2 separate regions of the Homo sapiens genome follow, and region 1 is linked to region 2. Evidence: fine-mapped expression QTL. Tissue or cell type: cerebellum. Region 2 holds a variant in brackets; the other region holds the start of a gene. All regions are shown on one strand. Distances are from middle to middle.

The links. PIP is the estimated chance that this variant, and not a neighbour inherited with it, causes the effect.
Region 1: it holds the start of LINC01012, and the variant in region 2 is fine-mapped to the expression of LINC01012 in cerebellum (GTEx, PIP 0.92).

What each region holds. Positions count from the first base shown.
Region 1 is chr6:27,692,882-27,695,641 of GRCh38, forward strand. LINC01012 (long intergenic non-protein coding RNA 1012) reads left to right here and starts at 1,154. Exons shown (of 4, transcript NR_038294.1): 1 at 1,154-1,625.
Region 2 is chr6:27,652,180-27,654,939 of GRCh38, forward strand. It overlaps the pseudogene RPL8P1. Among named protein-coding and RNA genes, the nearest start is that of TRV-AAC3-1, 2.6 kb to the left of the region's middle. The variant G/A (reference allele first, on the strand shown) is at 1,551.

The sequences.
Region 1 (2,760 bases), 41 kb after region 2:
CTCGTCTCTACTAAAAATACAAAAATTAGCCAGGTGCGGTGGTGGGTGCCTGTAATCCCAGCTACTCGGGAGGCTGAGGAGGCTGAGGCAGGAGAATCGCTTGAACACGGGAGGTGGAGGTTGCAGTGAGCCGAGGTCGCGCCACTGCACTCTAGCCTGGGCGACAGAGCAAGATTCCGTCAAAAAAAAAAAAAAATTAAAAAGATTTGCTTCCAACCACATAAGGGGAGGAGTGGTTTATAGATTAATAAAATTGCCACGAGTTGGTATTTCTTTTCTTTCATCTTGTTTTCTTTCTTTTTTTTTTTTTTTTGAGGCGCAGTTTCGCTGTTGTTGCCCAGGCTGGAGTGCAATGGCGCTATCTCGGCTAATCACAACCTCCGCCTCCTGGGTTTAAGCGATTCTCCTGCCTCAGCCTCCCTAGTAGCTGGGATTGCAGGCATGCACCACCACATCCGGCTAATTCTTTTTATTTTTAGTAGAAACAAGGTTTCTCCATTTTGGTCAGGCTGGTCTCAAACTCCCAACCTCAGGTGATCCGCCCACCTCGGCCTCCCAAAGTGCTGGGATTACAGGCGTGAGCCACCGCGCCAGGCCTTCTTCTTCTTTTTTTTTTTTTTTTTTTTTTTTTTTTGAGAGGAGTCTTGCACTGTCGCGCGGGCTGGTGTGCAGTGGTGTCATCTCGGCTCGCTGCAACCTCCGCCTCCAAGGTTCAAGCGATTCTCCTGCCTCAGTCTCCCGAGTAGCTAGGATTACAGGCGCCCGCCACCACGCCCAACTAGTTTTTTGTATTTTTAGTACAGACGAGGTTTTACTATGTTGGCCAGGTTGGTTTCGAACTCCTGACCTTGTGATCCGCCCGTCTCGGCCTCCCAAAGTGTTGGGATTACAGGCGTGAGCCACCGCGCCCGGCCGAGTTAGTAATTCTTGAAGGTGTGTCAGGTACATTGGATGCACTGTACTATTCTGTCTACCTTTGTATATATACTTTAAAGGTTTTTCCCCACAATTTCTCTGGGAAACCTGAACCTTTCTTCCCCGTGTGTTTAGAAGGGAAGGTGAGGAGAGTCAAAGGCACATGGAGCATTAACAGTTGGAATAAACGACAGAGACACGGAAACCTCCGAGGTTTCCAGAGCGGACCCGGAAATGACGCCAGGGGATGCAAACCCTTCTGCCCCTTTTTGCTACCCCTGAAGCTTACTGTTAGTGGTCGAGTTTTTCTGGAAGTGGGCTTCCGCGATCGCGGGGACCAACGCCCTGAGCTCTTGTGCCCAAAGGGGATCGCCAGGTTTTTTGATGCGGATCGAAAGGGACTGGCCCCGGAGCCTACAACCTGACGCAGGTGGGACTTGGGGAAATGTCGAGAAACCTAGGTCTGGGACTTGAGTTGGCTTCCAGGGCACACATTCTTGTTCAGAAGAAACACATTGCAAAAATCGGGAGGTGACGGGCAGATGAAGTGTCGGCGCTTCGCCTCGGGACTCCAGTGCAACCTATGGGGCTTTTGGAAATGAGGAAGTCGATGACTCTGCAGGGACTCCTCTGACCCAGGAGCAGATGGCGCTCGTCTGGGCACTCCCCAGGAGAAAAGGTGCATCGGGAAGCAGCCTGGCTTGTGGATGGTAATAAGTCACTGTTGATGGGTTGGGTGCAGGGAGGGATTTAAGTTCTTGAGCGACAGATGCTAGGGAGTTTACCTGCTCTGGATAACAGTATCTTGTGGAGGATAGTCACCTGGAAAACAGAAATGGCGTGACTGTGTTGAATACACTGTTTGATGATTCTGGGCATCAGGTGAATAGGAAATGTGTAACGTTATGGATGAGTGTGTGCTCATCGGACAGTAGCAGTGCATCTTAACAGTCGGCCTCTCAGTCCTCCTCTTCCTTAGAATCACCTATAGAGCTTTAAAATTTCCTGGATAATGTTAATGTGCAGCCAGCGATGATGACCATTGGGCTACAGTCAAATCCAAGAGGCGCATCTCATCCTTTGTTCTGATGGACAGAAACCATTATTCTGACATCGTGCCTGTTGGAGACATTGTACCTTAACTAGCATTTAATTCATGTGTGCTGGATTCGCTGAATGAAACTTACCAGCAGGGTACTGAATCTTGAATAATACAAGGAACGAGTAGAATAAGATAGTTCTCATTTTATCCTTATCTAATCTAAGAAATCTAGCAATATTTCTCTGTTTAAGTTTTTTTTCTTCAACAAAAAACAAAATACATGTAAGAGGATTTTCTGACACTGCTGGGGGCTCATAGAATTCTAGTGTCTAGTGTCTTTTCTGTCAGTTAATGTTACAAAGTTCAGTGGTGCTCCTTTTTTGAGATGGTGTCTAGCTCTGTCACTCAGGCTGGAGTGAAGTGGTGCCAACTTGGCTCACTGCATCCTCTGCTTCCCGGGTTCAAGCGATTCTCCTGCCTCAGCCTCCCAAGTAGTTAGGATTTCAGGTGTGTGCCACAACGCCCAGCTACTTAGTAGAGCCGAGGTTTCCCCATGTTGGCCAGGCTGGTCTCGAACTCCTGACCTCAAGTGATCCACACATCTCGGCTTCCCATAGTGCTGGGATTACAGTTGTGATGATCTTAAAACCTCTAACGATTTGGAAATATTCCTCCAGTGATCTTTGTTCTGTCGCAGTGATTGTAATAACATTTATTGAGGAGTTGTATGCCCAGTACTATTAAATAGGTTTACAAATTTTGTTATTTAATCCTCACAACTCTGTTAGAGAGATTGGATATTT
Region 2 (2,760 bases):
GACCAGCTGGCTTAACTGATGAATTCTATCAAACATTTAAATACTTAAGCAGTCCATCTCACACTTTTCCACAAAACTGAAGAGTAGGAAACACTTCCTAACTCATTTTATGAAGCTAGCATTATTCTGATACCAAAGCCAGACAAAGCCATTACAAAAAAGAAAGCTACAGGCCAATATTTTTTTATGAATATTGATGCTAAATTCCTCAACAAAATACTGGCAAACTAAATTCAACAACATATTAAAAGGATTATACACCATAGCAAAGTAGGATTTATTCCTGAAATGGAAGGATTCAGCATATAAAACAAGTAATTAATATAATGTATACATAAACAGAATGAAAGAAAAAACACAGTTCTTTGCATTAATGCAAAAAAGCATTTGACAAACTTCAAACACCTTCATGATGATGAAGGGCTTGCCAATGTGCTGGGGGTTGCCACCTTCAAAAGGATGCTCCACAGGGTTCATGGCCACACCCCGTACTCGTGGCCTACAGTTCCTCTTTGCCTTATATTTGTGGTAGGCCCGGCCAGCCTTCAAGATGGATGCCCCTGCTGGCCGCAAAGTGGGTCTCATTGCTCCCCGCCGGACTGGACGTCTCCGGGGAACGAAGACTGTGCAGGAGAAAGAGAGCTAGTGCTGAGGGGCTCAATAAAGTTTGTCTTTATGCAAAAATAAAAGAAAAGCCCCTGTCCCTCTGCCTCTGCCCCTGCCCCTGCCTCTGCCTCTGCCACTGCCTCTCCACGGTCTCCCTCTGATGCCGACCCAAGGCTGGACTGTACTGCAACCATCTCGACTCACTGCAACCTCCCTGCCTGATTCTCCTGCCTCAGCCTGCCGAGTGCCTGGGATTGCAGGCGCGCGCCGCCACGCCTGACTGGTTTTCGTATTTTTTGGTGGAGACGGGGTTTCGCCGTGCTGGCCGGGCTGGTCTCCAGCTCCTGACCGCGAGTGATCTGCCAGCCTCGGCCTCCCGAGGTGCCGGGATTGCAGACGGAGTCTCGCTCACTCAGTGCTCAGTGTTGCCCAGGCTGGACTGCAGTGGCGTGATCTCGGCTCGCTACAACCTCCACCTCCCAGCCGCCTGTCTTGGCCTCCCAAAGTGCCGAGTTTGCAGCCTCTGCCCGGCCGCCACCCCGTCTAGGAAGTGAGGAGCGTCTCTGCCTGGCCGCCCATCGTCTGGGATGTGAGGAGCCCCTCTGCCCGGCCGCCCAGTCTGGGAAGTGCGGAGCGCCTCTTCCCTGCCGTCATCCCGTCTAGGAAGTGAGGAGCGTCTCTGCCCGGCCGCCCATCGTCTGGGATGTGGGGAGCGCCTCTGCCCCGCCGCCCCGTCCGAGATGTGAAGAGCGCCTCTGCCCGGCCGCGACCCCGTCTGGGAACTGAGGAGTGTCTCTGCCCCACCACCACCCCGTCTGGGAGGTGAGGAGCGTCTCTGACCGGCCGCCCCGCCTGAGAAGTGAGGAGCCCCTCCGCTCAACAGCCGCCCCGTCTGGGAAGTGAGGAGTGTCTCCGCCCGGCAGCCGCCCCGTCCGGGAGGTGGG[G/A]GGCAGCCCCCGCCCGGCCAGGCGCCTCGTCCGGGAGGTGGGGGGCAGCCCCCGCCCGGCCAGCCGCCCCGTCCGGGAGGTGGGTGGGGGGCGCCTCTGCCCGGCCGCCCCGTCTGGGAAGTGAGGAGCCCCTCTGCCCGGCCGCCACGCCGTCTGGGAGGTGTACCCAATAGCTCATTGAGAACGGGCCATGATGACGATGGCGGTTTTGTCGAATAGAAAAGGCGGAAATGTGGGGAAAACAGAGACCAGATTGTTACTGTGTCTGTGTAGAGAGAAGTAGACATAGGAGACTCCATTTTGTTCTGTACTAAGAAAAATTCTTCTGCCTTGGGATGCTGTTAATCTATAACCTTACCCCCAACCCCGTGCTCTCTGAAACATGTGCTGTGTCCACTAAGGGTTAAACGGATTAAGGGCGGTGCAAGATGTGCTTTGTTAAACAGATGCTTGAAGGCAGCATACTCGTTAAGAGTCATCACCACTCCCTAATCGCAAGTACCCAGGGACACAAACAGTGCGGAAGGCGGCAGGGCCCTCTGCCTAGGAAAACCAGAGACCTTTGTTCACATGTTTATCTGCTGACCTTCTCTCCACTATTGTCCTATGACCCTGCCAAATCCCCCTCTCCGAGAAACACCCAAGAATGATCAATGAATACTAAAAAAAAAAAGAAAAAGAAAAAAGAAAGAAAAAGAAAAAGAAGAACAAAGTTGGAGGCTTCATACTTCCTGACCTCAACATTTACTTTAAAGCTACAGTAATCAAAACAGTATGGTACTGGCATAAGGAGAGACATACAGACACAAGCGAATAGAGGGCCCAGAAATAAACTATGGCTTATATGGCCAACTGATTTGTGACAAGGGTGCCAGGGCCATTTAATGGAGAAAGAACAGACTTTTCAACAAATGGTGCTGGGAAAACTGGATATCTACATGCAAAAGAATGAAGTTGGATGTTTACCTTATAATACAGGGAAAAACTAACTTAAAAACAGATCAAAGACCTAAACATAGGTGCTAAAAACCTTAAAATTCTTAGATGAAAACATTGGAGAAAATCTTCATGACATATGGCAATGATTTTTTGGATATCATACCAAAAGCACAGAGAACAATGACAAAAATAGATAAATTAGACTTCATCAAATTGATAACATTTGTAGGCTGGGCACGGTGGCTCACTTCTGTAATCCCAGCACTTTGGG